Linked DNA regions of Homo sapiens. The gene in region 1 interacts genetically with each later gene. Each region holds a gene or a part of one and is shown in the gene's direction. Other genes may lie near its edges. The genes, in order: MAP2K2, TST, KSR1, DCK, GPI and PNMT.

Region 1 (3,500 bases):
ATCCCAGGGAAGGCTGGGCTTTTGCAGGAGTCCTGGAGCAGCATGGTGGGGAAATCCAGGCTCCCCAGCCAGCCTCTCCAGGCTCCTCCAGCCCGCCCTCTCTAGCCTCAGTTCCACTTTCCTCTCTGCTGAGCACAGAAGAGACGCACGCCAGACGGTGGCAGTGGGAACTTGGCCTGTCACCCCTGCTGTCCTGGGGGTGGCCTGGCAGGTGTGTCCGGAGCCTCTGCCTCTGAAGAGGCACCTTGGGTGGCTCCCAGTGCCTGGGGTTTTGGCATTTGGGGGTTTTGGTCCCCAGGTTTGTTGCCAGGCAGCCTTGGGCAAGACATGGAATTTCTGTTTCATCATTTATGACATGGATGTGGGGCCACACCCGGGGACCAGCCTACCCATGATGACTCGTTTCCAGGCCCTCCGCAGGATGCCCGGCACAGTGGCGAGGAGACCACAGGCTGTGGGGAGGGGCCGAGGTTACCGTCACCTGGGCTGGCGTCACTGGGATCCCTCCTGCAGTCCATGCACCCCCTGGCCCCTGGTCCTACTCGGCCTGGCCTTTCTGCCCTAGGTGGCAGGGACAGGCGCAGGGCAGACGCCCAGCAGTGGAGCCGCAGGGCTTGGCGAGGGAGCCCCCTGGGGGTCTGGACGGGCACACAGCGACCCGCCGCCTCCTCCCACGCGGGGCAGCACCCGCGTCTCCTCCGCGCCCTCACCCTCCCCTTCCCTTCGTGTGCTGGGAAGAGGACGCAGGCCCAAGACGCTGGTCTCCAGCCTGGCCGCCTCCCGTGGCGCACAGACAAGCCCACCACGTAGGCTGCAGGGAGTGCGGGCCCCACAGCTGCCTGAGCCCCCGGCCGCGGCTTGGGCTGGCCCGGAGCAGAGCCTCTGCCGTGGCGACCTCAGGAGGGCCGAGTCACGCAACTGATTCGAGGATGGGACGGGAGGCGGGGGAACCCTGGGCCCTGTTCCTTCCCCACCTTGTGGGTGGGTGTTCAGACCCAAAGGCAGAACTGTCAGAAGACGCCCTGCCCTTGGCCCGTGGGTGGAGTTGGGCTCCGGCCCCTGCTTCCCGTCAGGAGGCAGACCACCCCCTCGCCGGGAGTGGGGGGACGCATCCGTGGCTTCCCGGCCACCTGCGCAGAGCCTGCACTCACTCCTTGTGTGCCCTCTAGGACGGCGGCTCCCTGGACCAGGTGCTGAAAGAGGCCAAGAGGATTCCCGAGGAGATCCTGGGGAAAGTCAGCATCGCGGTGAGTCCACCGCAGACCCACATCGCGCCCCCACCGCACTCTGCACGGACCTCTTCCACACGGCCAGGGTTCCGGGAGCCACTCACAGTGTGGTGGGGGTTAGGGTGGCCCCTGCAGAAAGAGAGTGGCCAAGGCTGTGCCCACCTGCTGTGGAGCTTGAACAAGTGACGTCCCTTTTGGGGCCTGAGGTCACCATCTGCCAAGTGAAGACGTTATAGGTCCCTCTTCACTCTTAGTATCCTCTGTTTGCCACACTGGTCCCCTCTGCCCCTCGTGGCAGGGGGATGTTGGCAGCTGGCACGTTGCAGGGGACAGGAGCTTGTTGAAAGGGAGACTCTGGGGTGGGATGTGGGACGCCAGGACCTCCAGACACACTCACCATTGCTGTTAGAAATGTCACCGGGGCCAAGGGCGTCTCTGCTGCCCGGTCTCCAGCACAGCTGCTCCGTAGAGCCGTGTGGTTTCAGCAGACCGTGCGTGTTGCTTCTTGGAGCTTGCACCTTGTCCATAGCAGGGGCCGAGTCCCGCCTGCCCATACCAGTGTTGGATTAAGACACAGGACGCATGCTGCCAGACACGCGTTTCCGAGTTGAAAGCTGCCGTCACACTGCCTGTGCTGCTTGCTTCACTTCTCGGGATGCTGCTTCCAGGGCGGGCCTGGGGGAAACATCGTCCTTCCCAGGCACCCTTAGCCCGTCCCATCTGGGGGCCCTTAGCACAGTCCCTGGGACCCCAGATGCTGCCTTTCAGGCTGATGTGGGCAAACTCGGCAGCCCAGCCTACTCCCGGGCCATGGGCCACCATCTCAGCTTCCCTGGGGCTAAGCCGTGTGCTCTGAATCAAAGGCAGTAGTGGCATCGGCGGCACTGCGGCCATGGGAACCGGGGTTGACTTGCACACGCCAGCACAGGGCTGTCAGCACTGTCTCGTCTCTGGCCTCGCTTGCTCCACCCCAGCGAGCTCCTCACAGCCTGAAATGGTTCCTGCCGCAGCTCCCTCGCTCCAGCTCTGACTGCTCAGCTCTGACCCCCGGGCTCGGTCAGGAGCTAAGCCCTGGTGGCCTTGTCCCGTGACTCCCTCCGCGCTCCCCTGCAGGTTCTCCGGGGCTTGGCGTACCTCCGAGAGAAGCACCAGATCATGCACCGAGGTAAGGCCCAGCCCGCCCTCCCCAGAGCCCCGGGGGCCGGCAGGCAACTGTTGGGCGCCCCTCACCCGCAGCCTGCCGCCTCCAGATGTGAAGCCCTCCAACATCCTCGTGAACTCTAGAGGGGAGATCAAGCTGTGTGACTTCGGGGTGAGCGGCCAGCTCATCGACTCCATGGCCAACTCCTTCGTGGGCACGCGCTCCTACATGGCTGTGAGTCCCCGCTGGCTCTCCCCTCCAGCTCTCCTCCCTGCTGCTCTCCCCCAAGCTCTCCCCACCCAGCTCTGCCAGCCAGCTCTCCCCCTCAGCTCTCACCCCCATGTCTCCTGCGCAGCTGTCCCTCCCAGTTCTCCTGCGCAGCTCTCCCCGCCTCCCACGAGGCTTTCCCAACTATTTCGTGGGCACACACTCCTACATGGCTGTTAGCACCCCCGGGACAGTCCCACCCCAGCTGCACCCTCCCCTTCATCAGCTCTCCCCACTTGCCACAAGGCACGTCTAAAGCTGGTGCCTCCTGGGAGCCTGCTTTTCGGATTCCCCTTGCTCTTTATTTTTTATTTGTTAATTTACTAATCTTTTGTAGACACGGGGTCTCGCTGTATTGCCCAGGCTGCTCATGAACTCCTGGACTCAAGTGACCTTCTTTCCTCAGCCTCCCAAAGTGCTGGGATTCCACTAGCAGTGAGCCTGAGCCACCACGCCCGGCCAGATCTCCCCTTCCTGTTGGAATTCTCTCTTAGGTTTTTGTCTCTAGCAGTGCCTACCAGGTTTCTTTCTTTTTTTTTTTTTTTTTTTTTTTTTTGAGACAGAGTCTTGCTCTGTCACCCAGGCTGGAGTGCAATGGCACAATCTTGGCTCATTGCAACCTCCGCCTCCCACCCGGGAGCAATTCTCCTGCCTCAGCCTTCCAAGCAGCTGGGGCTACAGGCATGTGCCACCACAGCTGGGTAATTTGGTTTTTGTTTTTGTTGTTGTTGTTGTTTTTTGAGACACAGTCTCACACTCTCACCCAGGCTGGAGTGCAGTGGCGCCATCTCCGCTCACTGCAAGCTCCGCCTCCCGGATTCACACCATTCTCCTGCCTCAGCCTCCCGAGTAGCTGGGACTAC
Region 2 (4,074 bases), on another chromosome or scaffold:
GCGCCACTGCACTCCAGTCTGGGCCACAGAACCACAGCCTGTCTCAAAAAACAAAACAAAACAAAAGGTCAGGGTTGGGAAACAGGGAAAGCTTCCAGGCTGGCCTCTGCAAAAGCTAGGGAGGGGCAATGGTGTCCCCCAGTTTGCAAGAGCCCATGGCGAGCTTTTCAGGAATTTTGCCAACTGGTTGTTAAATACAGCTATTATTAAAAATTGAATTACATCAACTTATGATTAAACGGGCTAAGTTCAAAACAGGCAATTTTTTAAAAAGCATGAACCTTCAGGGAAGAGCCAGGTAAACAAAGGCAGCTGGTACCACGTGGGCTTCAGACCAGGGATCAGGCCCGGCCTCAACTCTGGGTGTGTCCTCCAGCAACTCGCTCTGCCGCTCTCTCCTGTCTTAGTAAGTTTCTGGCCTACTCCTCAGGGTTATTGTGGGAATTAAGTCACACCACGGGAGTACCCAGCAAAGTGCCACACCAAGCAGGGCTGGACAATGTTAGTTCCTTTCACTCACTAACAAGTTATTGGCTAGTGTCTCTTCCTGGGGCCTCTGGGTCAGCGGGGTCTCGTCTCCCTGTCCTCCTCTCTCTCCCCCGCCCTCTCTGGTGCCACCAGGTCACCCACTTCCACCCAAGGCTCCCCACCCGCCACTCGCCACGACCCCACCCGGCAGGCCGCCCCAAGCGGACAGTCACCCTTAGTGCCAACGTAGCGGCGCGCCTTCTCTCCTAGACTAAGCCCCCTCTTCCGCCCAGGTCCCGCGCGGGAGCCCCGCGCCGAGCACCCCCAAAGAGCCACTCCCTCCCCCTCCAGAAAGGCAAGCCGCCACGCCGCGGCAGTTACCCGGGTCTCGGACTCCCGGCTTCCTGGCTCCGCCATGGCCCCCGCGGCGCGGCGCCCCCTCCCCGCGCCCGCAGCTGTCCCCTCCTCCCGCCACCAACCTGCAGCGGACCAAAGGGAGGAGACTCCGGCACAGCCCACCGCCGCGGCCACTCGGAGCCGCTGCTGCCCGCGCCTTCCACTGGCCGGGCCGTGGGGGTACGCCCGCTCCGCCCAGCCCAGGCCCGCGCGGCCCCCGCGCCACCCGGCGTCCCCCTCAGACCCCCGCGGGTCCCGGAGGCCCCGCGCGCGAGGTTGGCAGGTGCCGGGCGCGAAGCGGCCGCGCGGGGGAGGCGCGGGATGGCGGCGGGCGGCGCAGGGTCCCCCTCTGGCGGTGGCGCGATGGTGCGCGCCGCCTGGGGAGCTGCGGCCGGGGGTTTGAACCGGCCAACTTCTCCAGCCGGCCGGGGCGAGCGCCAGCGCGGCGTCCGGGGCGAGTGAGTGCGGGGCGGGGGCAGCGGCCGGGCGCCTGGGCCGCCGGTCGGGCCACCTGCTGCCCGGGGAAGGATAGCGTTGCGAGAGTGGGACGGGGTGCCCCGGGAACCCCTGATCCACCTAGGGCAGAGGGCAGCGAGCTACGGGCCGGACTCGGGCACTCTGGAGGCGGGCGAGCTCGGGCTGCCTGGGGAGGCCGCAGGCGATGGCGTGTGCGCGGCTCGCGGAGCTTCCTAGCCGTGCGCCCACCCCCTCTGCCTTGGAAGGAAAGGGGATTCTAAGCCCAAGATGCCATCGCCCCCCATCCCGGGCATGCTTTCATTGCTCTTTCCTGGCGGGATCGAGTACTGTAACTTCTAGGAGCCAGATCCCCGCCCCAGGAAGCGCCCCTACTTGGAGTCCTCGGAAACTCTTGCCCCACCCGCTTCTGCGCTGGGCCCCCGGGCCGGCTGGGAGGGGCGGGGCCGGCTTTCCAGAGGGAATCTGCAAACTTATCCCGCTGCACGCCCCAGCCTCGCTGGCTTGCTGTAAACAAGGAACCCGGGGGAGTGCGGAGGGAGAAAGAGCTTCTCCCAGGCCTCACCCTACTGCACACACCGACTTCCTTCCTCACGCCTGTCTCTCTTTCCTGGTTCCCACCCGTGCCAGGTGACACGCAGAGCTGAAGCCATGGTTCATCAGGTGCTCTACCGGGCGCTGGTCTCCACCAAGTGGCTGGCGGAGTCCATCAGGACTGGCAAGCTGGGGCCCGGCCTGCGGGTGCTGGACGCGTCCTGGTACTCACCAGGCACCCGAGAGGCCCGCAAGGAGTACCTCGAGCGCCACGTACCCGGCGCCTCTTTCTTTGACATAGAAGAGTGCCGGGACACGGCGTCGCCCTACGAGATGATGCTGCCCAGCGAGGCTGGCTTCGCCGAGTATGTGGGCCGCCTGGGCATCAGCAACCACACGCACGTGGTGGTGTATGATGGTGAACACCTGGGCAGCTTCTATGCTCCCCGGGTCTGGTGGATGTTCCGTGTGTTTGGCCACCGCACCGTATCAGTGCTCAATGGTGGCTTCCGGAACTGGCTGAAGGAGGGCCACCCGGTGACATCCGAGCCCTCACGCCCAGAACCGGCCGTCTTCAAAGCCACACTGGACCGCTCCCTGCTCAAGACCTACGAGCAGGTGCTGGAGAACCTTGAATCTAAGAGGTTCCAGCTGGTGGATTCAAGGTCTCAAGGGCGGTTCCTGGGCACCGAGCCGGAGCCGGATGCAGTAGGTAGGTGTCCCAGTGCTGGGTGGTCCCTGGGGAGTATTGCCCCATGGAAGGATAGGGAGTAAGGATGACTGGGACCCTCTCCAGGGTCCGTCCCATGCCTTCAATCCTCCCATGTAGGCCTCAGTCTTTCCATCGATAAAACCAGAAAGTGGAGACAAACCTAAAGGCTTTTTCAGCTTGGATGCACAAGGACCCAAGAATGTGTCCTCATAGCCATGTGCTAAGAAGCCACCTAGCATCTGTGTGAGCAGAAGTCACTGGTGACATGTCCACCACCTCCACTCCCAGGCACCAGCTGCCCCACATGTACTAGGATATACCTAAGGGTGTCATGCCCCTGAGCCAGCGTTTGCATTGCTGTACAGAAACCTCCCACGGACACATCCAGCTTCTCCAGGCCTCTCTCGTCCCGCAGAAACCCTTATAGACATCAACAGTGTCCCTCCCCGCAGGATCCCCCTCTCCCCAAATCTAGCTCTCCTGGGGCCCCTGCCTGCTGTTTGCAAAGGTTCCATAACCTTTCCAGGCAGCTGCAGCCCGTCGGCAGAGTTGTAACAGCAGCTGCCATTTCATGCCAGACACTTGGCACCGCATTATCTCAGCGAACAAAGCTCAATGCCCCTGTTTTGGCAGCGGGGGGTGGGGGGACTGAGATGCCAGGACATAAAGTGGTGGAAGGCAGGATTCGAATCCAATGCTGCCTTGTTTCAAACCAGGGCTATAAACCAGGACGCACCCAATGCTGCCCTACCCCTACTTCCCAGGGCCAGGAGGGAGTCCCCTCTGCTAGTTGCCCCAGGAAGGCGACTCAGAAGTTCCCCTCCTGTGGAAGGGAAGGCCAGGTGGATTGGATACTGCTTGAGGGTTGGGGAGAGCCTCAGGAGAGGAAATGCTGAGTTCTAGAACCTCCTAGCCAGACAGAACCTCGGAGGTCTTCCCTTTTCTAGAGGCAGGACTGCCGTCTCGCTGCCATCACTCCTGCTGAGTGCCCTCCAGTCCCTGCCTGGCCATTTCCAGGAGCAGGGCCCTCTCTTGTCTCTGGGCACCTCCTTGGTGGCTCTTTCCTCAGTCAGAGCTCCTTCTCTACAGAATCTAACTCGTGTGCAACATTTTGCCTGACTTGTTGAAAAACATCTCTTCCTGTCTGTACCTCCTACAGAGAGAATGCTGGGAAAACTGTTCTGCACACTCTTAGAGCTGGAGGGCCTGAACGGTGACCTCACCTGACAGAGGGGAGACTGAGGTGCACAGAGGCAGGGGCCAAGGCCGCATAGCTAGTTAGTGACAGAGCCAGGACAGCAGGGTCTCTGCCCTTTCCAGCGCAGCTTTTTCCAGGCCCCATATTTTTCTTGCCTGCTTGCTCTCTGAAGGTCTGGAGTTGAAGATTCAAGTTCATTTGGCACCTCCCAGAGAATCCTGGCTGGGAACGCCTGCAGCCCTCTCCTGGCCTTGGTTCAAGACGCCTCTTCTCCTTGGGATTTAAGCTGTCA
Region 3 (3,244 bases), on another chromosome or scaffold:
AGATGCACTGGCACTGACGGCCAGGATGGCGGAAATGGCCATCCCCTCTGAGGACCTTGTAGGCGGTGAGGGACCCATGCTGGGCCAGAAGGAAGACAAACATGGTAATTGCAGCTGTTCTTGGGGTAGGGCGGGGAGCCCAGAAGGTCTGATCTGGCCTCTGCTTTTTGGCCCAAGACTCCATCAGGGAAATCTATCTAGGGCTCTCCCCTTGTCCTTTCAAAGGGATACTGCCCCTTCCTCGTCTTGCAGAGGAAACCCTGGCTAGGAACTGAGCTAGTTTATGGAGTCTGGAATTCCTGGAGAGCTTGGGTTCACCTTCTCACCCCTGTAATCCAGGCTGCTCCTGCTGGAAAAGTAGAAACAGAATCCAAAAAAGGTCTGGACTCACCCGGTGGTTCCCAGCCAGGGTTTCTGCTGCAAGGTGAGGAAACATCCATGGCTTGTACAGATGTGAGTCTTTGATGAAGCCCCCAGGCAGGCACCAAGGTGATGGGACTCAGGGCCTTGGCTTTTAGATACATCCCAGTCCCTGACTGACATCTGACCATGAGGGCTGGATGGGTGGGAACAAGGAGGAGTAGATGGCAAAAGTACCTGAGCCCACTTCCCAGCCACAGGGTGACCCTGGCACTGTAAAAACCCTTTGTCAGTCATGCCAGAAGGTTCTAGAACTGCCCACCTCTTCCATTTCAGTCCTGCTGAAACCCCTTAGCCTATTTCCGACTCCTCTGTCCATGCTCTGAGTTCAGCTGGGCAGTGTGTGGGCTATCACCCCTTTCATTTAGACCTACCTAGCTGGCCCCCATCTGCAGAGCCTTCCTTAGCACCATTAGGCCTTCTACTTGTGTCCATTTGAAGCAGGAGGGGCTGGATTTGGAAAAGTCTTTGAAGTGAGAGCACCACGCTTGTCTTCGTTAGAAACTCTTAACTGCAGAAAAAAGTTCCAGATGGCAAGGGAGCCCTTAAGTGGAGATTAGGTTGCATTAGACTCCAAAACCAGAAAGGAAAAAGGGTGATGGGAGTGGAGACGTGATTGGATTCAGGCCCAGAACCTGTGACCATGCTCTGAGCTCAGACTTGGGGAGGGAGGGGTGTGGCTCCCACCCCTTCCAGTTAAGACCTGCCTAGCAGAGCCCCAGTCTCCAGCCCCTTCCCTAGCACCAGAGTCTGGTCAAAATGCCACAGAAAATGAGCTGCTCTGCCAGCAAGCTGTGGAGCTGCCTCCTCTCCAGGCCTGGCATCCCTTGGTCAGCCCCTCCTGGGAGGGCACAGCCGTATTACAGTGCCAGTGTGCCTGGCCATCAGCATCTTCACCCTTCCCAGTCTGTGTGGGGAGGCTGTAAACCCCGTGGATTCAGCTCCGTGTGGAGTTTCTGTGCTATGGTGGGACTGCTCATTTTGCCCCATCATCCCTTTGGCCTCCCACACACCTGCCCCTTCCCAGGGATCACGTGTGTCTCCAGCCTTTCACCTTTCTATTGCAATGGTGGCCTTTGTCCAGGCAAGAGCAGGCCTGATGGATGTACTGGTGAGCCCCACAGTTGGATGTCAGCTCAGCCGTCCAACTGGGAGGAACAGTAGGCTCAGTTCCTCCCTGACCCCTGACACCAGGCCGCAGTGGGCATGCACAGGCCCACAGAAAGTCAGTCTGGGTTTTGCTTTTCTCGTGAGCATCACAGTTAAAGAAGCGCTCATTGAGCAACTACAGTGCACTTGGTCTTCTGCAAGTGCTGGGCACCTAGAGATAGGAACAGTCATGGTCCCTGCTCTTAAGGAACTGATGACCTGGTGGGGCCCTGTTGTCTTCAAGGAACCCAGAAGCCACTGGGCCCCAAAGGTGGAACTGAAGGACTGGGGGCAGCTGGCTCTCAGCCTGCCACCTCTGCACTGCCTGCCTTTAAAGAACCCCACCCCACCCCATGATGGCCCCCTCTGTTCCCCTTGTATTTCAGTGACTGTGAATTGAGGTTAGGAAGGCACACCTGCCCTTCTGTGTGCTCTCTCCACACGAAGGATGACAGATACTGTGAATTCAGCCCTCACGGCCAACTGTGAAGGGGATGGAGAAGGCTGGGAGGGCTCGGGGAGAGCTCTTAGGGGCTGCGGAAGTCCCCACGGGGGTCTGAGAGTGGAGCCCAAGCTTTGGCCCTCCAGGCATCCCCAGTTTCCAGCCTCACCTCTGAAGCCCTGCTGCCTTTAACCACCAGAGCCGCAGCCCCCTGGGTTTCTGTCTAACTCGAAGTCTTGAATCCTAGCTAGTTTGGGGTTGTGAGCAGTGTGTAGCAAAGTTGATCTCTCCATGTCACCAAATCAAAACACCCTCTGTCATCCTACGGCATTTCCTCTTGAGGTCACAGAGAGGAATGGCAAGCCCTGGAAACCTGTGTTATTCTGTGTTGATTTGGTGTGGGGGGAGGGTGGAGACGTAAATGTGAAGCCAGTTGGAGTTTGTGCTATGCAGCAGTGTTAGCCAGGATCTCATCAGCGTGCAAACCTAGCATCTTCTGTGGCCACAAGCCACACACTTGCTTTTTTTGAATGTGATGTAAAATTTGTACAGTAAAGTTTTTATATTTTCTATCAACTACATTTGTCTTCCAGACATGCTATTAATTTAAATTAAAATGGTTAGTATTAACAAACATGCTGTATCGGGTTTTTTTGCCACTGGCAAGAACATGCCCTCTGTGCTAAGCCAGGCCTGGGTGTCTGGAGTTTGTGAATAAAGTTATACCAAGGTGTTCTGGGGCTTGTCTTTGCTTTGGTCAGTTCCAGCTGAGTCCTGGGGACCATTTGGATGGGTGGCATGGGAATGGATAGGTCTGGGGTGACTGAACCCCTGGTCTATAGATTAAGGAGCTCCTTCCAAAGGAAGAAGTTATGCCAGGACCTCAGTGGCAGGTGTTTCTAAACAGATGGAGGAATGGAGAAGGCACAGCGTCAATGGCCCACAATGCGCAGAGGAAGATCATCCAGGCCCCAGCAGCAACAAAGCCATGAGCAGGCCCAGCATCTCCTGAGCTGGAGATGCCTTAGCCTTATGGAAGCCTTGGAGGGATGAGGTGGTGTTCATCTGAATCCAATATCTAGGAGCCCCTCATTGCCAGTTATATATACAGATAGGTGGAGAAGAGGTACTTTCTAAACACCATCTCACTTTAATCCTCACAAGGCCATGAGGTAAGAATTGTGATGTTTCAGCTGAGGAAAATGAGAAACGGAGAGGTTAAGGTATTCACCC
Region 4 (3,383 bases), on another chromosome or scaffold:
GAGAACAAGCATATTCTTACATTATGGTCAGTAGGCTAGGTTCATTGACTCCTTACATGATTTTCTGCACACACTGACATTGCAAAGTATGTGATTCACATATGTGCTTCAGAAACATGACAAATCTACTACATGTTTGATTTTCAAAGTTGCTTGAACTATTGTGCTTATTAATGTTATCAGTGTTAAAGCTGCATATGTCAGTGGTCTATGATATTTAAATGAAGAGATTATAAAATTGGTGTTACAGCTATTTTAGAACTATATCTATCTTAGATTGATAGATGCAGTGGCTCACACCTGTAATCCCAGCACTTTGGGAGGCTGAGGTGGGAAGACTGCTTGAGCCCAGGAGTTCCTGACCAGCTTGGGCAACATAGTGAGACCTCATCTCTATAAAAAACAAACAAAAACTAGCCAGACATGATGGTGTGCACCTAGCCAGGAGTTCAAGGCTGCAGTGAGCTTTGATTGCACCACTGTACTCAGCCTGGGTGACAGAGCAATAAATAACTCCTAAAATGACCTTTTAGGTCATTCATCTTTTACTACTGAAGTATTTAACAATATTTCTTTTTTTTCTCGAGACAGTCTTGCTCCGTCGCCCAGGCTGGAGTGCAATGGCACAATCTTGGCTCACTGCCATCTCCACCTCCCAGGTTCAACCAGTTCTGCCTCAGCCTCCTAAGTAGGTGGGATTACAAGTGCACGCCTCCATGCCTAGCTAATTTTTTTTTTTTTTTGAGACGGAGTTTTGCTCTTGTTGCCCAGGCTGGAGTGCGATGGCGCGATCTCAGCTCACCACAACCTCTGCCTCCCAGGTTCAAGCGATTCTTCTGCCTTGGCCTCCCTAGTAGCTGGGATTACAGGCATGTGCCACTATGCCCGGCTAATTTTGTATTTTTAGTAGAGAAGGGGTTTCTCCATGTTGGTCAGGCAGGTCTCGAACTCCTGACCGCAGGTGATCTGCCCGCCTCGGCCTCCCAAAGTGCTGGGATTATAGGCATGAGCCACTGCGCCTGGCCTATTTTTGTGTTTTTAGTAGAGATGGGGGGTTTCACCATGTTGGCCAGGCTGGTCTGAAACTCCTGACCTTAAGTGATCCACCCATCTCGGCCTCCCAAAATGCTAGAATTACAGGCATGAGCCGCTGCGCCCGGCCTTAACAATATTTCTTTGGAAAGTAAATGCAATGGCATTGTGGTAGTTACTTATACAGCTGGGGTCTTCAACTATTATATACTTTTAAATGAAGATGAATATTAGATACCTCAAATTAGTCAAGGAATTATACTGATTTTTTTTTCTTCCTTTCCTCAGGTCAAAGAGTTTTTGAGTACTTTGTGATCTTGCTGAAGACTACAGGCAGCCAAATGGTTCCAGATACTTCAGCTTTGTGTATCTTCGTAACTTCATATTAATATAAGTTTCTTTAGAAAACCCAAGTTTTTAATCGTTTTTGTTTTAAGGAAAAAAGATTTTTAAAATGAATCTTATGCAAAACTTTTTGACCAGTTTCTTTTCTTTTGTTTTTTTTTTAAAAAAGACATTTAAAGACAAAGACATTATTTCTCATAGCAGGAAATGTAGAGGTAGATGGTTCCAGTATCAGCATAGTGACTAAACTACATTATAAAAGATCCAGCTTCCTTCTGTCATTCCCCTCTTTTGTCTTCCTCAGCAGGTTGGCTTTTTTCCCTGGTGCCTCTCACTTCGTTGGTGACCAGTTTCTTAAACTGAAAGCTTTAATGTTACATAGTAAATGGTAGTGTGTCCTGTGTAAATTAGTGTACCTATTAAAAGTTGCAAAGTGGAATTAAAGGAATCCCTAGAATAAGGATTCTGAAGTTTTATTTTAAATTATTATCTTCTTAACAGTTTAGTCCCACCTCTTACTTCCTGCCTCAGTCTGCTTTCTCTACTGTCTGGATTAATTAGGCAGCCTGCTATAAAGTTAAAGTCACACATTTCTATTTTGCAAACACTGTGATTACTCTTTGCTTTGTAGTTTGCTTTGCTTTGTAGGGTTCTGCTTTTAAGTTTTTCTCTTTTTCAGACAAATTACTGATAAAAATGATATTGCTCTATATGTAATATATCCTGAAAGCATTATTTTTTGTTGAATAGGAAATAAAATTAATGAAGACAGAGGCTAGAAAGCATCCATTAATTAATGAGACACACTTAACTACTTATCTCTAAACCATCTATGTGAATATTTGTAAAAATAATGAATGGACTCATCTTAGTTCTGTATATAAATATATTTTCTTTCTAGTTTGTTTAGTTAAGGTGTGCAGTGTTTTTCCTGTGTATTAAACCTTTCCATTTTACGTTTTAGAAAATTTTATGTATTTTAAAATAAGGGGAAGAGTCATTTTCACTTTTAAACTACTATTTTTCTTTCCAAGTCATTTTTGTTTTTGGTTTCTTATTCAAAGATGATAATTTAGTGGATTAACCAGTCCAGACGCACTGATCTTTGCAAAGGAGACTTAATTTCAAATCTGTAATTACCATACATAAACTGTCTCATTATACGTATGCATTTTTTTAGTTTGTTTTTGTTTGGTATAAATTAATTTGTTAATTAAATATTTCTTAAGTATAAACCTTATGAACTACAGTGGAGCTACACTCATTGAAATGTAATTTCAGTTCTAAAAAGATGTAATAATCATTTTAGAATTAAAATTTATTCTACTTTTAAATAAATTATGAATATTAAAGGTGAAAATTGTATAAATTACTTTGATTCCATTTTAAGTGGAGACATATTTCAGTGATTTTTAGTAACCTTTAAAAATGTATAATGACTTTTAAAATTTGTAGAATTGAAAAGACGCTAATAAAAATTTATTATTTATTTGTCATGACTCAAAAGTTGTCTCAGTGTGGTGGTCATAATAGAATTGAGCCTAATGGTGGTCTGGATTATCTCTTGGATCTATTACCTATATCATGTCTTCCATTAGAATTTATTTATTGCTCTTTATAGTTTGCTCTCCTAGAAAGGTAATTAATAATACAAGACTTATTTTTCTCATCCAGAATTTTCTCTTCTGCTATGCCTAAAACTTGAAACTTATACCGAGCCACCTAGAACTTAAGTCTGTCATATGTTAAAGAACAGAGTTGTAAAATGTTTCTAAAATAGAGATATAGATGTTATTGCCTTTGAAAAATGCTAGATACATTGCAACATTAAGTCTGGTAAATAATAGCCTTCTTCATTTGACTAACTTACCTCTTCTTTTAATTTTTTTTTTTTTTTTGTTTTGAGAGAGGGTCTTGTTCTGTTGCCTAGGCCGGAGTACAGTGGCGCAGTTATAGTTTACTGTAGTCTTAAACTCCTGGGCTCAAGCAATACTGCCTCAGCCACT
Region 5 (3,500 bases), about 30 Mb from region 1:
CAGGCGTGAGCCATGGCGCCCGGCCTCTGAAAGCATTTATTGCTTGTTTCTGACATGTATTGTTGCCATTCTCTGCCTTTGCTCACTGTTCCTCTTTTCTCTCACTGTTCATGCCCTGAGCATCTCTGGCAGGCCTTCGGGGCCTGTCCTAGGCATATATGGGTCCCCTCCTCTCCTCCTGACTGTCTGCAGCACATAAGTCCTTGGGGAGCTCCTACTCCTCTAAGCATACAGTGGGTTCTTGGAACAAGGTTATGGTGCTAACAGAGACCTCAGGGCCTGCCTGTCTAGTGGATAGAGGGCCGAGCTATGGCACCATGCCCAGCTGGGAGCATGGCTGCCTGGGGTTGGGGGGGGCAGTCTTTATATCCTGACCGTAATCCCCAGGGTCGAGCCGTGCTGCACGTGGCTCTGCGGAACCGGTCAAACACACCCATCCTGGTAGACGGCAAGGATGTGATGCCAGAGGTCAACAAGGTTCTGGACAAGATGAAGTCTTTCTGCCAGGTAAGTGGCTACTGGGCCGGACTCACCCTTGGCCGTGTGTGTGAGTTATTTGGGAATCTGGGAGCCCTAAGGGGCAGCTCTTCCCTCTTCTTGTAGGCAGGACTCAGGTTCTCACTGCAGCTTAAGGGAGGGGTTGCCTGTGTGATCGCTGACCCTGGAGTCTCTGCTGAGGCCTGAATTTCTCCTGGCTCTGCTCTGAAGGAATCTGCTGCTGGCAGAAGTGGGGCCAGTTTCTTTCCTGAATTGTAGACACCTATGGACTCATGGTGACAAACCACAGAGGCTTCAAATGAAAAGTGGGGCCCCTGAGAGACAGGACAGTCAGGAAAGGAAGGAGCTTTTTCTTTTTTCTTTTTTTTTTTTTGAGATGGAGTCTCACTCTCTCGCCCAGAGTGGACTGCAGTCGTGCTATCTCAGCTCACTGCAACTTCCGCCTCCTGGATTCAAGCTATTCTCCTACCTCAGCCTCCCGAGTAGCTGGAATTACAATTATGCGCCACCCTGCTCAGCTAATTTTTGTATTTTTAGTAGAGACGGGATTTCACCATGTTGGCCAGGCTGGTCTCAAACCCCTGACCTCAGGTGATCTGCCTGCCTCACCTGGGATTACAGGCATGAGCCACTGCGCCTGGCCGGAAGGAGCTTTTTCTAATCTCTTTTGTCATACGCCCTTATCACCCAGTCTAGAAACAGATAAAACATTGTAAAATTTCCTCAACCCTGGCTGGGCGCGATGGCTCATGCCTGTGATTCCTGAACTTTGAGAGGCCGGGGTGGGTGGATCACTTGAGGTAAGGAGTTCGAGACCAGCCTGGCCATCATGGTGAAACCCCATCTCCACTAAAAATACAAAAATTAGCCAGTTTTGGTGACATACGCCTGCAATCCCAGCTACTTGGGAGACTGAGGCAGGAGAATCGCTTGAACCCGTGCGGCAGAGGTTGCAGTGAGCTGCGATTGCGCCACTGCACTCCAGCCTGGGCGACAGAGGGAGACTCTGTCAAAAAAAAAAAAAAATTTCCTCATCCCCATTCCCAGCTAACCCTCCAGAAGCAGCCTTTGTAAAGTTTCCTGTAGCCAGGCGCAGCAGCTCATACCTCTATTCCCAACTATTCAGGAGGCTGAGGTGGGAGGATGGCTTGAGCCTGGGAAGTTGAGGCTGCAGTGAGCCATGGTGACACCACTGCACTGCAGCCTGGGCGACAGCAAGATCGTGTCTCTAAATAAATTTAAAAAATAGAAAAGTTTTCCTGTGAAGTCTTCCAGAAAGTTCCTGTGCACATACACATCTGTCATCTCCTCTTTGAAACACGTACACATGTGCACATGCACACAGGTTGGTTTTCTCCCTGCTCCTCTGAAGCTTATTTCCACCTGGAAGTATGTAAGCAGTGTCCGTGTGTCAGTGACAGTGCATGTAACATGCCTTCTTTTCCTTGTGTGTAGGGTGGTAGGGGTTGCCTCAGAGACCAGCTAAGTTTCCCCACATCAAGCACTTGCCTCAGTGTCTACCCTAGCGGTGATTCTGCAGGGGTGGGTTGGCAGACATCCTCACGTCTGGAGAACGAGGGTGATGCCGGTGTGCCTGTGTGGGCTGTGCATGCTACGAGGGTGATCGTCCAAACTCTTGTCAGCTGTGATCATTTGCTGCTTGTCCTAGGAGCAGTGGCCTCCATGTGTGGCTGGTCAGAGTCCAGTTACTTTGGCCAAGAGCCACTTTCAGACCTGAAAATGGGCTGGGTGCAGTGGCTCACGCCTGTAATCCCAGCACTCTGGGAGGCTGAGGCAGGTGGATCATGTGAGGTCGGGAGTTTGAGATCAGCCTGATCAACATGGTGAAACGCCGTCTGTACTAAAAATACAAAAAAATTACCTGGGCGGGCATGGTGGCGAGCACCTGTAATATCAGCTACTGGGGAGGCTGAGGCAGGAGAATCTCTTGAACCCGGGAGGCAGAGGTTGCAGTGAGCCAAGATCACGCTACTGCACTCCAGCCTGGGTGACAGAGTGAGGCTCTGTCTCAAAAAAAAAAAACCAACAAAAAAACCAACCCATCTCTGGAAAAAATAAATAAATCAGCTAGGTGTGGTGGTGTATCCCAGCTACTTGGGAGGCTGGGGTGGGAGGATTGCTTGAGCCCGGGAGGTTGAGTCTGTACTGAGCTGAGATTGTGCCACTGTCCTCCAGCTCAGGTGACAGAGTGAGACGCCTCCAGGGCAAGGAAGTTGTGGGGTCCTGATGGGAATCTGGATTTCCTGAATGTCACTTAGGGTGATCAGTCCATGTGATGGTCTTTGGGTGTGTGGCGGGGCCTTTCCAGCCATCTGCTGTGAGTGGCAGAGCTGAAGTGCATTAAAAGCCTAGTGCTGTGTGATCAGTCTGGGTGTGCTCAGCCATGCCACATGGCGAGGATGGCACTGCACCGTCTGGGGTGCTGTTTCCAGGAAAGCCTTCCCTTAAAGCTGGCCACTGGAGTACCTGACTCAGGCTGATAAGGTATTTATAGTTCAAAAAAAGTTGCTGAATGGCAGTAATCCCCTGGTGAGGAACATTCCCCATGGCTGTGCTCTCCAAAGTTTGCCAAGATTGGGTGAAGACGTTCACTGTGACCTTGATTGTAGTGGCAAAACCTGAAACCAAGCTGTACTCATTTGTCAGGGGACTTACAAAGTAGAGTCAGCACATATTCATATACTGTCATCCTGGGCACCAATAGGGATTAGGGAGCTATAGTTGGATTGATCTGCCATGCTGTTCAGGATGGACTGGGAAGTTGAAAAAGGAAGTTGCAGAATTGGTGGGTATGGTAAAGACTCATTTGGTCAAATGAAGGCTGGGTGTAATTGTAATAAAGATAGACACATTTGGCTTGGTGCAGTGGCTCACACCTGTAATCCCAGCACCTTGGGAGGCCGAGGTGGGTGGATCACGAGGTCAGGAGTTCAAGACAAGCCTGGCCAACATAATGAAACCCCATCTCTACTAAAAAAAAA
Region 6 (3,767 bases), on another chromosome or scaffold:
GGCAGAAGGGCCCGGGACTCATCCAGAGGGGAAGGAAGGGGTCTTCAGGAAGACCACGGAGATGCCACAGGCAGAATTGGCTTCCCATCTGGGAGATAGGTGGGGAGACCCTGGCATTTTGACAGCCAGAACCTGGGGTGCTGAGCAGAATCTTCATGCCTGGCCTGGCCGCTCCTTCGGAGGGAAGCTGGAGGGTGGGCTGCGAGAGGAGTGGGGTCAGAGCCCCTACATCCGCAGGACCCCAAATCGGCTGGGCCCCAAGGCCCGGACTGCGCTCCCCGGTGGCCCCGGCGGCCCTCCGCGAATGCGTCCTGCCCCTCCCCTGCCCAAGCCCTCTGCCCTCACCCGGGTCCGGCGCCGCCCCCGAAGTGGCGGGAACAACCCGAACCCGAACCTTCTGTCCTCGGGAGCCCCCAGATAAGCGGCTGGGAACCCGCGGGGCCCGCAGGGGAGGCCCGGCTGTTCCGCCCGCTAAGTGCATTAGCACAGCTCACCTCCCCTATCGCGCCTGCCATCGGACGGGCAGTGCCGCGCCCTGCTCTGGGGCCCCCGGAGCGACCACAGCGGAGGCCGGAACGGACTGTCCTTTCTGGGGCGGGGTGGGGAGGGGGTGTCGCTGGAGGGCCCGGTGGCATAGCAACGGACGAGAGAGGCCTGGAGGAGGGGCGGGGAGGGGGAGTTGTGTGGCAGTTCTAAGGGAAGGGTGGGTGCTGGGACGGGTGTCCGGGAGGGAGGGGAGCCTGGCGGGGTCTGGGGCCTCGTCGCGGAGGGCGCTGCGAGGGGGAAACTGGGGAAAGGGCCTAATTCCCCAGTCTCCACCTCGAATCAGGAAAGAGAAGGGGCGGGCTGCTGGGCAAAAGAGGTGAATGGCTGCGGGGGGCTGGAGAAGAGAGATGGGAGGGGCCGGCCGGCGGGGGTGAGGGGGTCTAAAGATTGTGGGGGTGAGGAACTGAGGGTGGGGGGCGCCCAGAGGCGGGACTCGGGGCGGGGCAGGCGAGGCGGAGGGCGAGGGCTGCGGGAGCAAGTACGGAGCCGGGGGTGTGGGGGACGATTGCCGCTGCAGCCGCCGCCCCACTCACCTCCGGTGTGTCTGCAGCCCGGACACTAAGGGAGATGGATGAATGGGTGGGGAGGATGCGGCGCACATGGCCCCGGGCGGCTCGGCGGTCAGCTGCCGCCCCCACAGCGGACCGGTCGGGGCGGGGGTCGGGCGGTAGAAAAAAGGGCCGCGAGGCGAGCGGGGCACTGGGCGGACCGCGGCGGCAGCATGAGCGGCGCAGACCGTAGCCCCAATGCGGGCGCAGCCCCTGACTCGGCCCCGGGCCAGGCGGCGGTGGCTTCGGCCTACCAGCGCTTCGAGCCGCGCGCCTACCTCCGCAACAACTACGCGCCCCCTCGCGGGGACCTGTGCAACCCGAACGGCGTCGGGCCGTGGAAGCTGCGCTGCTTGGCGCAGACCTTCGCCACCGGTGAGCGGGGGAAACTGAGGCACGAGGGACAAGAGGTCGTCGGGGAGTGAAAGCAGGCGCAGGGAAATAAAAAGAAGGAAAGGGAGACAGACCAGGCGCCTAACAGATGGGGACCAAGAAACAAGAGATAGCTGAGAGGTGCAAACAGAAGAGAAAAAAGAGCAACATCCCTTAGGAGAGGGGCAGAGGAGAGAGAGGTGGAGAGAGGGGGCGGAGAGTGCTCAGAATTGAGAGCTAAGGTGGGGGATGCAGGACAGACTGAGGTGGAGATGCATAGGAGGAAATGGAGGCAGATGTGGGACAGGGGTGAGAAACTGCCAGGATTTCCTCGCTGAGCCTGGCTGGTAGGTATAGTTGTTTTCTTTCTTTTTCTTTATTTTATTTTCATTTATTTACTTATTTTTATTTTTTATTTGTTTTGAGACGGAGTTTCGCTCTTGTTGCCCAGGCTGGAGTACAATGGCGCCATCTCGGCTCACTGCAACCTCCGCCTCCCCGGTTCAAGCGATTCTCTTGCCTCAGCTTCCCTAGTAGCTGGGATTACAGGCATGCGCCCCCATGCCTGGCTAATTTATTTGTATTTTTAGTAGAGACGGGACTTCTCCATGTTGGTCAGGCTGGTCTCGAACTCCCAACCTTAGGATCCACCCACCCCGGCCTCCCAAAGTGCTGGGATTACAGGTGTGAGCCACTGCGCCCGGCCAGTAGGTATAGTCTTCTAGATGTGAAACCTGAGTCTCAGAGCGGTGAAGTTCCCTTCCGAAGGGCAGCCCATGTTGGAGCTGGGTTCAGTCTAACTCTGGGGCCAATGCTTTTTCCAGATGGAGACACATTTGCAGAGGAGAAGGAAGAACTAGAGAGAGGCAGGGAGATGCAGGGGAGGGAAGGGTAAGGAGGCAGGGGCTGCCTGGGCTGGCTGGCACCAGGACCCTCTTCCTCTGCCCTGCCCAGGTGAAGTGTCCGGACGCACCCTCATCGACATTGGTTCAGGCCCCACCGTGTACCAGCTGCTCAGTGCCTGCAGCCACTTTGAGGACATCACCATGACAGATTTCCTGGAGGTCAACCGCCAGGAGCTGGGGCGCTGGCTGCAGGAGGAGCCGGGGGCCTTCAACTGGAGCATGTACAGCCAACATGCCTGCCTCATTGAGGGCAAGGGGTAAGGACTGGGGGGTGAGGGTTGGGGAGGAGGCTTCCCATAGAGTGGCTGGTTGGGGCAACAGAGGCCTGAGCGTAGAACAGCCTTGAGCCCTGCCTTGTGCCTCCTGCACAGGGAATGCTGGCAGGATAAGGAGCGCCAGCTGCGAGCCAGGGTGAAACGGGTCCTGCCCATCGACGTGCACCAGCCCCAGCCCCTGGGTGCTGGGAGCCCAGCTCCCCTGCCTGCTGACGCCCTGGTCTCTGCCTTCTGCTTGGAGGCTGTGAGCCCAGATCTTGCCAGCTTTCAGCGGGCCCTGGACCACATCACCACGCTGCTGAGGCCTGGGGGGCACCTCCTCCTCATCGGGGCCCTGGAGGAGTCGTGGTACCTGGCTGGGGAGGCCAGGCTGACGGTGGTGCCAGTGTCTGAGGAGGAGGTGAGGGAGGCCCTGGTGCGTAGTGGCTACAAGGTCCGGGACCTCCGCACCTATATCATGCCTGCCCACCTTCAGACAGGCGTAGATGATGTCAAGGGCGTCTTCTTCGCCTGGGCTCAGAAGGTTGGGCTGTGAGGGCTGTACCTGGTGCCCTGTGGCCCCCACCCACCTGGATTCCCTGTTCTTTGAAGTGGCACCTAATAAAGAAATAATACCCTGCCGCTGCGGTCAGTGCTGTGTGTGGCTCTCCTGGGAAGCAGCAAGGGCCCAGAGATCTGAGTGTCCGGGTAGGGGAGACATTCACCCTAGGCTTTTTTTCCAGAAGCTTCCTTGAGGCTAGCATTCTGTACCACTCATTCTTCCCAAACTAAGGAAGGCCAAGGTCAGGGGAGCTCACCGGGCACCTGCAGTGCACCAGGCACTTGTGATATGCCATTGTGTCCATCGCATCATTCATTCCTGCATTCAGCAGCAGGTCCTGCTAGTCTGTTTCCAGGTGAAGCTCAGAGAGGTGAAGTCACAAACAGTGCAGACTGCTTCAGACCAGAACGAGGGAGAGTGGGGATCATGAGGAGATGGAAGTAGAATCTGCAAGGTGGTGGGGAGGTGGGGGTGTTATGATTGAAGCACAATGGCCGAGGGAAGTGAAAGGGAAAGAACTGGCTCCAGCTCCCTCTCACAACTGGACTTGAGTTCTGCCCAGCTCTGCCTCTGGGGCCTG

What was found.
Region 2: changes in MAP2K2 (region 1) and TST together harm fitness more than expected from each alone (negative genetic interaction), as found in Homo sapiens cells (one large-scale study listed by BioGRID).
Region 3: changes in MAP2K2 (region 1) and KSR1 together harm fitness more than expected from each alone (negative genetic interaction), as found in Homo sapiens cells (one large-scale study listed by BioGRID).
Region 4: changes in MAP2K2 (region 1) and DCK together harm fitness less than expected from each alone (positive genetic interaction), as found in Homo sapiens cells (one large-scale study listed by BioGRID).
Region 5: changes in MAP2K2 (region 1) and GPI together harm fitness more than expected from each alone (negative genetic interaction), as found in Homo sapiens cells (one large-scale study listed by BioGRID).
Region 6: changes in MAP2K2 (region 1) and PNMT together harm fitness more than expected from each alone (negative genetic interaction), as found in Homo sapiens cells (one large-scale study listed by BioGRID).

The regions. Positions count from the first base shown.
Region 1 is NC_000019.10:4,100,123-4,103,622, reverse strand, and holds part of MAP2K2 (dual specificity mitogen-activated protein kinase kinase 2), read left to right. Parts: intron 1-416; exon of another isoform or gene 417-806; intron 807-1,169; coding exon 1,170-1,247; intron 1,248-2,342; coding exon 2,343-2,394; intron 2,395-2,479; coding exon 2,480-2,604; intron 2,605-3,500. UniProt on the Homo sapiens protein: Catalyzes the concomitant phosphorylation of a threonine and a tyrosine residue in a Thr-Glu-Tyr sequence located in MAP kinases. Activates the ERK1 and ERK2 MAP kinases.
Region 2 is NC_000022.11:37,016,648-37,020,721, reverse strand, and holds the start of TST (thiosulfate sulfurtransferase), read left to right. Parts: upstream 1-1,274; 5' UTR 1,275-1,322; intron 1,323-1,968; 5' UTR 1,969-1,989; coding exon 1,990-2,584; intron 2,585-4,074. Other genes in the region: MPST (3-mercaptopyruvate sulfurtransferase), read right to left, coding at 850-885.
Region 3 is NC_000017.11:27,623,692-27,626,935, forward strand, and holds the end of KSR1 (kinase suppressor of Ras 1), read left to right. Parts: 3' UTR 1-2,744; downstream 2,745-3,244.
Region 4 is NC_000004.12:71,028,032-71,031,414, forward strand, and holds the end of DCK (deoxycytidine kinase), read left to right. Parts: intron 1-1,320; coding exon 1,321-1,347; 3' UTR 1,348-2,883; downstream 2,884-3,383. UniProt on the Homo sapiens protein: Phosphorylates the deoxyribonucleosides deoxycytidine, deoxyguanosine and deoxyadenosine. Has broad substrate specificity, and does not display selectivity based on the chirality of the substrate.
Region 5 is NC_000019.10:34,368,196-34,371,695, forward strand, and holds part of GPI (glucose-6-phosphate isomerase), read left to right. Parts: intron 1-387; coding exon 388-507; intron 508-3,500. UniProt on the Homo sapiens protein: In the cytoplasm, catalyzes the conversion of glucose-6-phosphate to fructose-6-phosphate, the second step in glycolysis, and the reverse reaction during gluconeogenesis.
Region 6 is NC_000017.11:39,667,209-39,670,975, forward strand, and holds PNMT (phenylethanolamine N-methyltransferase), read left to right. Parts: upstream 1-1,244; 5' UTR 1,245-1,267; coding exon 1,268-1,469; exon of another isoform or gene 1,470-1,813; intron 1,814-2,420; coding exon 2,421-2,628; intron 2,629-2,742; coding exon 2,743-3,181; 3' UTR 3,182-3,267; downstream 3,268-3,767. UniProt on the Homo sapiens protein: Catalyzes the transmethylation of nonepinephrine (noradrenaline) to form epinephrine (adrenaline), using S-adenosyl-L-methionine as the methyl donor. Other substrates include phenylethanolamine and octopamine. Also methylates normetanephrine.